Linked DNA regions of Homo sapiens. The protein of the gene in region 3 purifies or fractionates together with the protein of the main gene of each other region. This does not show direct contact. Each region holds a gene or a part of one and is shown on either strand. Other genes may lie near its edges. The genes, in order: APPL2, MYO7A and RIPOR1.

Region 1 (2,341 bases), on a different chromosome or scaffold from region 3:
CCCCATCTCTACTAAAAATACAAAAATTAGCCGGGTGTGGTGGTGCACACCTGTAGTCCCAGCTACTCGGGAGACTGAGGCACAAGAATCGTTTGAACCGGGGAGGCGAAGGTTGCAGTGAGCTGAGATCATACCACTGCTCTCCAGCCTGGGCGATAGAGCGAGACTCTGTCTCCAACCGCCGCACCACCCCCCCCCCCACCAAAAAAAAGCAGCAGCAGCATGGACAGTATGTAAATAAATGGCCGCAGCTGTTTTCCAATAAAAATCAAATGGTTAGCCAAATGACCATAGTTTGCCAACTTCTGGTATAGATTAAACGTGAGAAAAGAAGGAGTTTAAAGATAGAGAAGACAAAAGTTCTGTGAAGGAAGTTCCTCTGTGGAATCTTTGGGAAGATGATACGAATTGACTACGTAAACAATATTTTGGCTCAGAGGAAAACAGTCTAGATTCTAGAAGTGACATGCCTGAGTTTGAGAAGCAAGGAGACTCAGCGGAAGGCACATATACACAAGAGTCAGGAGAAACAAGACTAGATTACAGAACATATTGAAAGCCAGGCCAAAGGGGTTTAAATGCATCTTAAGCCTTTTCTTTTTTCCCTTTTAAACTCTCCTAACTTCAGGATCCAGAAGCACTGGCTCAATTAATGCTGTCCATACCACTAACCAATGACGGAAAATATGTACTGTTAAACGATCAACCAGATGACGATGATGGAAATCCAAACGAACATAGAGGCGCAGAATCCGAAGCATAACTCACTTGCGCCTGTGGGGGAAGAGCAAACAGGAAGGAGAGCTACCTCCTAAGGGTTTTAACGTCTCTGACATACAGGCACACTGACCTGATTTCCGAAGGCTGACAATCGTTTGTGGAATGTAATCTTGATGCCTTGATACTGAGACTTGGGAGGGAAACTAAGAAATGGTTGACAGCGTTCCCACCCATCTACAATGTTATTTTAGGTGCTTTGTGGTAAGTCTTTTTTCTTAGATTGCGCTAAAATTTCTTAGATTGTTCAGCGCTCAGAACAAAAGTTTGAAAAATGCATTGTTCATATGAATGTCATCTCTTTTCAGTTTCCAGTATCCTTTTTAAAAAATGGCAAAAGCCTAGATTTACAATTTGATGAACACTAAATATTTCTTATTAATATAATCTATTTTTGTATTTTACTTAATGAGCTTTAAGTGCCTGTCGTTCTGAAAATTGTGTATTTATAATTCAGCTTATCTCATAATTGGACCTAATAGCATTTCTTTGTGCAGTTAGGTGATGAGCACTGCTTTGAGGCCCAAGCACTAGTAGAGATGCGCGATACAGGTCTAGTTTCGGTAACTGTTCCAGACATCAAGCAATAAAAAAATGAATACCACAAAAGATGTTTGATTTTACAGTGGAGCCTTACTGAACCAGCATTCAGAAGTTTAAGGTCCTCCTAGGTATGAGTATTTTTAGTAGTGGATCACTGTGGACAGGGTGCAGCTCTACCAGTTCCTGTTTCTTCTGAGCCAGACCCTCTTCAGGGAAGGGACCAATTAATTTTAAAACTCACTTGAAGCACAGCTGGTCATGGGGCTTGGTATAAAGTTCCTATTTCCACCCTGATACTTCCAATTCCTGGAACCCCAGCCCACTCCCCCATCCCTCCTCCCTATCAAACTAGTATAATGATTTTGAATCGGTACAGTGTGTTTAACTGTAACTAAGTTCAACAGACTATTATTATCTTTGTAATAAATTAACCTAGCAATAAAAAATATTCTGTTTCTTTCGTTAGATGTGGTTATTTTCTAGAACATCCCTGGAAGAAAACTAAAGTCAGCTCTATAGCTTTAACATTCAATTTCCCAAAAACTAGGGCATAATGAAATCACAGAAGAGGGGATATAGTATCAAAAAATACTTCCAGTCAACATGAGTAGAATATGTGATCCCATTGCTAAAAGTTTTAAAGGTGTTGCTTTTAAAATGGTGGATAAAACAACTTTTGTAATCCAAAATTAGGTTAATATAGGATCCATTTGAAATGTATACACCATAAAAGAAATAGTGAGCCAGTCTAAGCCAGTATGAGATTATGCACTGTAAAATTAATTCATTGTTCACTAATGCCTTACAAATTTGTATGACATAACTGCTTTAGATCAATTGGTTCTCTGACAGACTGCAAGAACCACAGTCCCCTGAACTTTTTTTTTCTTGCTTAGACTTTTTTGGGAGAGGGGTAGAATCTGAAGTCCTAAACAATTATTAGTTTGAAAAGTGAAACACTATACATTTCTTTATACATTTCAAATGGATCCTATGATGTTAACCTAATTTTGTATTACAA
Region 2 (3,653 bases), on a different chromosome or scaffold from region 3:
CCCGCCCCGGAACCCTAAACCGGGCCATCTGCTGCGGGCCCATGGCAACGGCGGCTTAGGTGACGCCCGCGGGCGGGACGGCGAGGGGGCGCCCGCGCCACCCCGGCCCCCTCCGTCTCGGCCGAACCCCCCACAGCCCCACTTTGCCCGGAATCCCAGGCGGCTTCACTGGCACCGCGGCGGTAGGCCCGGGATAAACGTGGCACCTGGCACCGCACCTGACGGCAGTTTTGGAAAAAATCGTCATGTTTTTTTCTATGTTTTCCATGGAAGGAAACACGAGGATGTTATGGACTAGAACGCGGTAAACTCCCGGGGTTTTTAAGACTAAAGGAGAGATGCATTGAAGATATTTCTGGCTCCCTGGCTGCCTCTGGGGAGTGAGGGCAGATACAGTTTCCTTCTGGGGTAAGTTTGGGGGAAAGCCCCTGAAGAGGCTATGTCCTCCTCCCGCAGCCCCCGAGGTCAAATAGCAGCCCACGTCCATCCTGCAGAAGAGGCCTTGGAGGCCTGGTGTGGGGTCCCCTGAACTCCCCAGGACAGCTGAACCACCTCGATGGCTCAGAGCTCTCCCTGCAATGGGCCAAGCTGGCCTCCTGTGTCCTAGCAGCCACACAGGGCTGGACACCAGGCGTCGGTCCACGCTGGGCTGTGAGCCAGAGGCCACCGTCCCATCCCGAGGGTCCGGAAGGCCCAGGCCCTGTGACTCCTCTCCCATTCCCTCCTTCTCGCCTTGCCCTGCCTATCTTTGTCCTCCTCCCCTCTTTCCTCCTTTTTCTTCCTCTTCTCTTTTCAAGGCCTCCAGTCTGCATTTGTGGCTCTCTGCATTGCCTAGTATCCTGGAAGCCAACTGCTCCCCAACGAATGAACAACGGCAGAGAGTGGGGGCGGGGGACTGGGTGGGGGGAATGGCAACGAAAAAGACGGTGATGCCTCACACAGGGCTCAGAGCCACCCAGGATGGGCCCAGTTCTACCCCACTCCCTGTCCCAGCCTTGGGAACCCAGGGCTCTGCTGTCCAGCACGAAGCTGACTGATCAGTGATTCCCACTCACTTCCTGTGACCTCTCAGGGACACCGCTCTCAGGAGAGGTCCTTCCCCCAGTCAAGCCGAAAACAGGCACACCTATCTCTCCCCGCCCATCTATAGCAGTACATTGGGACAGGACCCAGACCTCAGACACAAGGAAGTGCTGGTGGTGAGCTTCCAGGCATTCTACCACGAGTTCATATAACCGACCTTCACTGAGTACAGGTTCAGACTAAAGTACAGAGGACACTGTTAACAAGACATGTCCTCAGAGCTCCCAGCCTGGTGTGGTGGACAGACCCAGGCACAGATAAGGATGGTACCACCAGATAAGAGGCAGATCAGTCCCGGAGACATAGGATAGCATGGCCACTAAGAGTTTGGACCCTGGAGTCAGATGGCTTAGTTTCAATCCCAGCTCAGCCACTCACAAGCTGTGTTACCTTGGGCAAGTTCCTCAACCTCTATGTTCCTTTCTTTCCTCATCCGTCAGGTGACAAAATGACACTGCTTCCACGTGCTCGTGAGGATTTAACAGGTTAAGATGCGTAATGCACCTAGATTGGTGCCTGTTAGACCAAATGTATATGAGTGCCAGCCATGGTTAACTAAGGGAGTCGTGTTAGGGGTGACAGCTGGGTTTTAAGATTTTTTTTTTAGGCAGACATTAGGGGAAAGGGCATCCCAGGAAGAGGGAACAGCAAACTCAGAGAATCAGAGGAGAGAGGGAAGAGATTGTAAAGTAAGTCTGGCGGCTGGTGGCTAAAGAGAGGTCCCCTGGGGGAGACCCTGCAAGGTGCTAAGAACCTGACCTTGCCTGGTTCCAGAACGACTACTGAGACCACCCTTGAGCTGGAGGAATAGGCCTCTTCTCCACAAGTGGCAAAGACAGAGACTCTTGAAAGCAGCAACAGAGAGGTGACTCATTCTATACAACGAATCGTTAGTATGAGTCTCGGCTGATTTCTCATCAGAAACCACGGCGGCCAGAGGGCAGTAGGATGGCATATTTAAAATGATGAAAGAATAAAAAAACTGTCAAGAAAGAATTCTATATCTGGCATAACTATCCCTCACAAAGGAAGGAGAAATGAAGACATTCCCACGTAAACAAAAGCTGAGAGAGTTTGTCACTAGTTGACCTGCCCTATAAGAAATGCTAAAGATTAAAAGACATTGAACAACAACAAAACAAACAACCCATTTCAAAAGTGGGCATAGGCAGGAGTTTGATGGCACTACTGTACACCAGCCTGGGTGACAGAGTGAGACTGTGTCTCCAAAACAAACAAACAAACATAGGCATAGGACTGAAATAGACATTTCTCCAAAAAAGATATACAAAGCGACCAAAGGCACATGAAAAGATGCTCAACATCATTCATCATTAGGATAATGCAAATCAAAACCACAATGAGATACCACTGCACACCCATTAGGATGGCTATTACAAAACAAAACAAAACAAAACAAAACAGAAAATAAGTATTGGTAAAGATGTGGAGAAAATGGAACCCTTATGCACTGCTGGTGGGAATGTGAAATAATACAAATGTTGTGAAAAACACTATGGCAGTTCCTAAAAAAATTAAAATGAGAATTACCATATGACCCAGCAATTCTACTTCTGGATATATACTCAAAAGAATTAAAAGCAGAATCTCAAAGAGGTCTTTGCACACCTATGTTCAAAGCAGTATTAATTATAATAGCTAAAACATGGAAGCAACCCAAGTGTTCCTCAATAGATGAATGAATAAACAATATGTGGTATAAACATACAATAAAACGTTACTCAGCCTTAAGACGGAAGGAAATTCTGACACATGCTATTAATACAACATGGATGAACCTTGAGGATATTATGCTAAGTGAAGTAAGCCATCACAAAAAGACAAATAGTGTATGATTCCACTTATGTGAGGCACCTAGAATAGTCAAATCAAAACCAGAAAGCAGAATGGTGGTTGCCAAGGGTGGTGGGGAGAGGGGAATGGGGAGTTATTGTTTAATGGATAGAATCTTTATTTTACAAGATGAAAAGAATTGCAGAAATTGATAGTGGTGATGGTCACACAACATTGTGAATGTATTTAATGCCACTGAACTATGTACTTAAAGTGGTTAAATGGGGCCAGCCATGGGGCTCACTCCTGTAACTCCAGCACTTTGGGAGGCTGAGGCGGGCAGATCACCTGAGGTCAGGGGTTCAAGACCAGCCTGGCCAACATGGTGAAACCCCATCTCTACTAAAAATACAGAAATTAGCTGGGCATGGTGGCAGGGACCTGTAATCCCAGGTACTCAGGAGGCTGAGGCAGGAGAATCACTTAAACCTGGGAGGCAGAAGTTGCAGAGTGAGCTGAAATCACACCACTGCACTCCAGCCTGGGTGACAGAGTGAGACTCTGTCTCAAAAAAAAAAAAAAAAAAAGTTAAGTGGTATATGTTGTTATATGTATTTTAAAAAATACAAAATTGGAAAAAAAAATAGAGTACAGTAGACAGTGATGCAAAGCCATACAAAAAAATTAAAGAACACTGGTAAGGGCACTTACATAGATAAATAGAAAAGTCATATTTAACCAGGCACAGTGATAGGCGCCTGTACTCCCAGCCACTT
Region 3 (3,753 bases):
GCCCTCTGCTGCCACCATCCCCCGAGTCCCATAGGAACTAGGATGTCTAACTGTTGGTACAAATGACCATCATAATGTCCATCTGAGTGACCGCTTCGGGAGATGGGCGGGCAAGATTGCCCTTGCTGGGTGAGAGCAGGTAGGGAAAGAGCTGAACCCCTTGAGCTAAGGCAGAAGGGCCACCTCAACTGGTGGGGGACTGGCTGATAAGAACCAGGGGACTCTCTGGGCTCATGTCAGCCCTATAGTCTGTTCCCAGGATGGGAAATAACCCAGATCCAAGGTTCCAAAGGTTATGGGGCTTGCAGCACAGCCAGGTCAGGATGGCCGTGAGTGGAGGAGCCCTGACCTGTCCGCATGGCCCCAGATCTTGCAGCCCCGCTATACTTCCTACACACCAAGACTGGCACACCCGGGTGCGGCGGAATATCCCACCACCTGGGCTGCCCATCTCAGCACTGTGCCAGGCCAGCTGCCTCTCTGGGAGTCCCCGGGTCTAGCCCCGCCCCACCCCGGGGCCGCCCCGACCGAGGTAAACAGAGGCTAAAAATAACCTGGGCAAGGGGCGGCTGCAAGGGAGAAGGGGGTCCCTTCTGAGCCTGTCCTTGTCTCCATGGCAACTGCCCCCAAACCCGGCGGCTGACGTCATCTCGCAGCTGCCCAAGCGTATAGGAGGGAGGGGGAGCGGCACAGCCCCGGACCCCCCACCCCGGAACCGGGCGGAGGCTGTCGGGTGGCCTCACTTCCTGCCGGCCCCCTCCCTGGTCAGCTGGTTACATTCCCTGGCCGCGCGCTGGGAGCCAGGCGGCCTCCCCCGGGCCGGGCCTGGCCAGGGCTGAGTCCGAGCGGCGACGCAGAGGGGCCGCCGTGACTCACCCGCGCCCTCCCCGCCCGCTTCTCTCAAGCGGGACCCAGCCCAGAGTCCTGAGTCCTCCCCTCACCCGCACCCAAACCCAGACCCCTGGGGCGGCTCACCTTGCTCCTCTCTCCCGCCGCAGTCACAGGACCCAAGCCGGAGAGGGCGGTGGAAGAAGGAGCTATGCCAGTCCTCCTTGTCCCGCTGGAGTATTTTGTACCTCAGCCCCCAATTATCATTCCTCTCCTCCCTCCAATACCACGGAGGTGGGTGTCGCAGGGGCAAGGACTCAGATCTAATCCTCGCTTCTCCCAAACCAGCTGTGTGACCTTGAGAATACTACTAACCTCTCTGGGCCTGTTTCTGCATCTGCCAGATGGTCATAACCCTCCTCAGATGCTGTGCGTTGGCCGAATGCGGCAGGCCCAGGGCGCGGCCCCGCAGACTGCAGCCAGGGCACAAGTATTGTTACACGAGGCTGCGCACAGTAGGTGCTGGGGCGGCCAGCCTGGACACACGTTAGAACTGGCTGGGGAGGGTCTGTAGGGGAGGCCGGACTCAGGGCTCACCCTGGAGAGGAGGACAAAGGGTGCTGAATCTGGACTGAATCCGACCTCTAGCCCTGGTGAGCAGCCCCTTGCCCAAACCAGTTCTGCAGAGAGCCCAGGCCCGGCTGTTGCAGGAACCTTGCGCCAACCTCCATTTCCAGGGAAAAGCTCCGTTCCCCGACAAGGACGATCCTCTCCGGCTTCGGCTACGCCAGGTTTGGGCGGAGAGCCCGGCTCCAGCCCAGGCTCGGTCACCTCGGGGCCGGCCACAAAGCCGCTTAGGCCGGCCCCTAGAGCTAGGAGGATTAGCTCAGCTCCTAGGCCGGCCCGCACCCTTCGTCGCCCCCTCCCCATTTCCAGCCCAGCCTCCCCTGCGGCGAAGGCAGCAAGGGCTCCCAGGGAGCGCGCGTGCCAGGGCCCAGGCTGGCGCCTTGAGCCCGCTCTCTGGCCTGGCCCATCCCAGCGCCCCGGGGCACCGGCCGCCAGGGCCTTGCCGTGGGAGGAAGGCAGCAGCGCCAGGCTCTGCAGGCCCGGAGGCGGCGGCTTTTGTGGGAGAAGCTGCGTTCTCCACGCCCGGGGGGAGGGGAGGAAAGACAAGGCGCGGCCGGGGTCCGGGAGATGGGGTGAGGCGGGACAGAGCCGCAGATCCCGGACCCACCGGGCGGCGCCGGCGGGGGGGCACCAGAACCTCCGCGCCTGCTCCCCGCCCGGCCTGCAGCCCCGGAAACGGCGCGGGACACTCACATGGCTGCGCTGGGCTGCGCGGACCTCGCGCTGTCCTTGCGCTCGGAGGTGCCCGGCCTGGTCGCGCCGCAGCTGCCGCTGTCGCCGCCGCAGGCGCCGGCCCCTCCCTCCGCCCGCCGCCCCGCCGCCCCTCCCCTGGCCCGCCGGGCCCCACCCCCTGCGCTCCCGCGGCTCCCGCACCCCTAGAGGCGCCCACGGCTCGCTCCGCCCTCTCGGATAACGGGGCAGGCCGGTGGCCCACGCAGCCCACCAGCTTGCAGGGAGGGCAGACCCTGGGGGATGTGAGGGAGGCTTTCTCACGCAGACCCTAAAACGGTGAGCGCCAGGGAGCCCCGCCTGCTTGTCCCCTCCCCAGATCCCTCGGGCTCTGGAGACCTTGCGGGCCCCCTGTCCGTGACCACCTGAAACAGGTCCTGGAGCTGCTACTGCTGGCTTAGGCTGGTTGGTGGAAAGGATCCAGGGCTGTTGTGAAGGCCTTGGGGAGTCCAGAAGCCGCCTGGCACCTTCTGGGTCCAGACGCTGCCCTTCAGCCCTGCCATTTCAGCCAGCCTCAGCGTCGCTGTAGAGGCAGGCCGCCCTTTCTGCCACTGTCTGGCTGGTAAGTCCAGGCTCATAGCCGGGTCATGCATTCCCCACTCATTGGGTACTGGTTTTCGGGCAGTCTTGGGGTGGGGACGCTGGCAGGGTCCGGGTACAGGGCCATGTGTTGGGCAACCCAGTCCTTTCCAAAGCCGGGGCTAGAATGCTGGCCCTCCACACAGTCGGTAAAGGTGGGGCTGAGAGTCGACCCCATGTTGGGGTCAAAGGGCCAGTTCCACTCCCCCGCTCCTCCCATCAATCAGACACCCCTGGCCCTTCCAACCTGGACACCCCTGAGGCTTCTCCAGGCCTTGCACTCCCGCAGCCCTCATGTATGTCAGACCTACCCAGGAATGGTTTCAGGGACAGTAAGAGGTCCCTGAATATCTGTACCCCGCCCCCACCAGTCCTGAGGGCTGTTTTTTTGTGTGTTTTGCTTGTTTGCTTGGTTTTGTTTGGTCGGGTTTTTTTTTTTTTTTTTTGAGACAGAGTGTCACTGTCGCCCAGGCTGGAATGCAGTGCAAGCTCCACCTCCCAGGTTCATGCCATTCTCCTGCCTCAGCCTCCCGAGTAGCTGGGACTACAGGCGCCCACACCACGCCCGGCTAATTTTTTGTATTTTTGGTAGAGATGGGGTTTCACCATGTTAGCCAGGATGGTCTCGATCTCCTGACCTCGTGATCTGCCCGCCTTGGCCTCCCAAAGTGCTGGGATTACAGGCATGAGCCACCGCGCCCAGCCTGTTTGGTCGGTTTTTTAGAGATGGGCTTTCTTCATGTTGCTCAGACTGGTCTCTAACTGGGCTCAAGCGATCCTCCCACCTTGGCCTCCCAAAGTACTGGGATTACAGGCTTGAGCCACCTCTGCCTCACAGTTCTCCACTCTCCAGCCCCTCCTCTTGGGCTTCCTTTGTAGTGCCCTTTTCTTTCTTTCTTTTTTGTTTTTTTTTGGGGGACGGAGTCTCCCTCTGTTGCCCAGGCTGGAGTATAGTGGCGTGATCTCGGCTCACTGCAACCTCCGCCTTCT

Evidence for each region.
Region 1: the proteins of RIPOR1 (region 3) and APPL2 fractionate together in Homo sapiens (co-fractionation; one large-scale study listed by BioGRID). This does not show direct contact.
Region 2: the proteins of RIPOR1 (region 3) and MYO7A purify together in Homo sapiens (affinity purification with mass spectrometry, with the first as the bait; one large-scale study listed by BioGRID). This does not show direct contact.

Annotation. Positions count from the first base shown.
Region 1 is NC_000012.12:105,172,736-105,175,076, reverse strand, and holds the end of APPL2 (DCC-interacting protein 13-beta), read left to right. Parts: intron 1-628; coding exon 629-763; 3' UTR 764-1,777; downstream 1,778-2,341. UniProt on the Homo sapiens protein: Multifunctional adapter protein that binds to various membrane receptors, nuclear factors and signaling proteins to regulate many processes, such as cell proliferation, immune response, endosomal trafficking and cell metabolism.
Region 2 is NC_000011.10:77,134,593-77,138,245, reverse strand, and holds part of MYO7A (unconventional myosin-VIIa), read right to left. Parts: intron 34-3,653; exon of another isoform or gene 1-33. UniProt on the Homo sapiens protein: Myosins are actin-based motor molecules with ATPase activity. Unconventional myosins serve in intracellular movements. Their highly divergent tails bind to membranous compartments, which are then moved relative to actin filaments.
Region 3 is NC_000016.10:67,527,310-67,531,062, reverse strand, and holds the start of RIPOR1 (rho family-interacting cell polarization regulator 1), read right to left. Parts: upstream 2,235-3,753; 5' UTR 2,149-2,234; exon of another isoform or gene 1,241-2,148; coding exon of another isoform or gene 1,204-1,240; exon of another isoform or gene 976-1,203; intron 463-975; exon of another isoform or gene 1-462. UniProt on the Homo sapiens protein: Downstream effector protein for Rho-type small GTPases that plays a role in cell polarity and directional migration.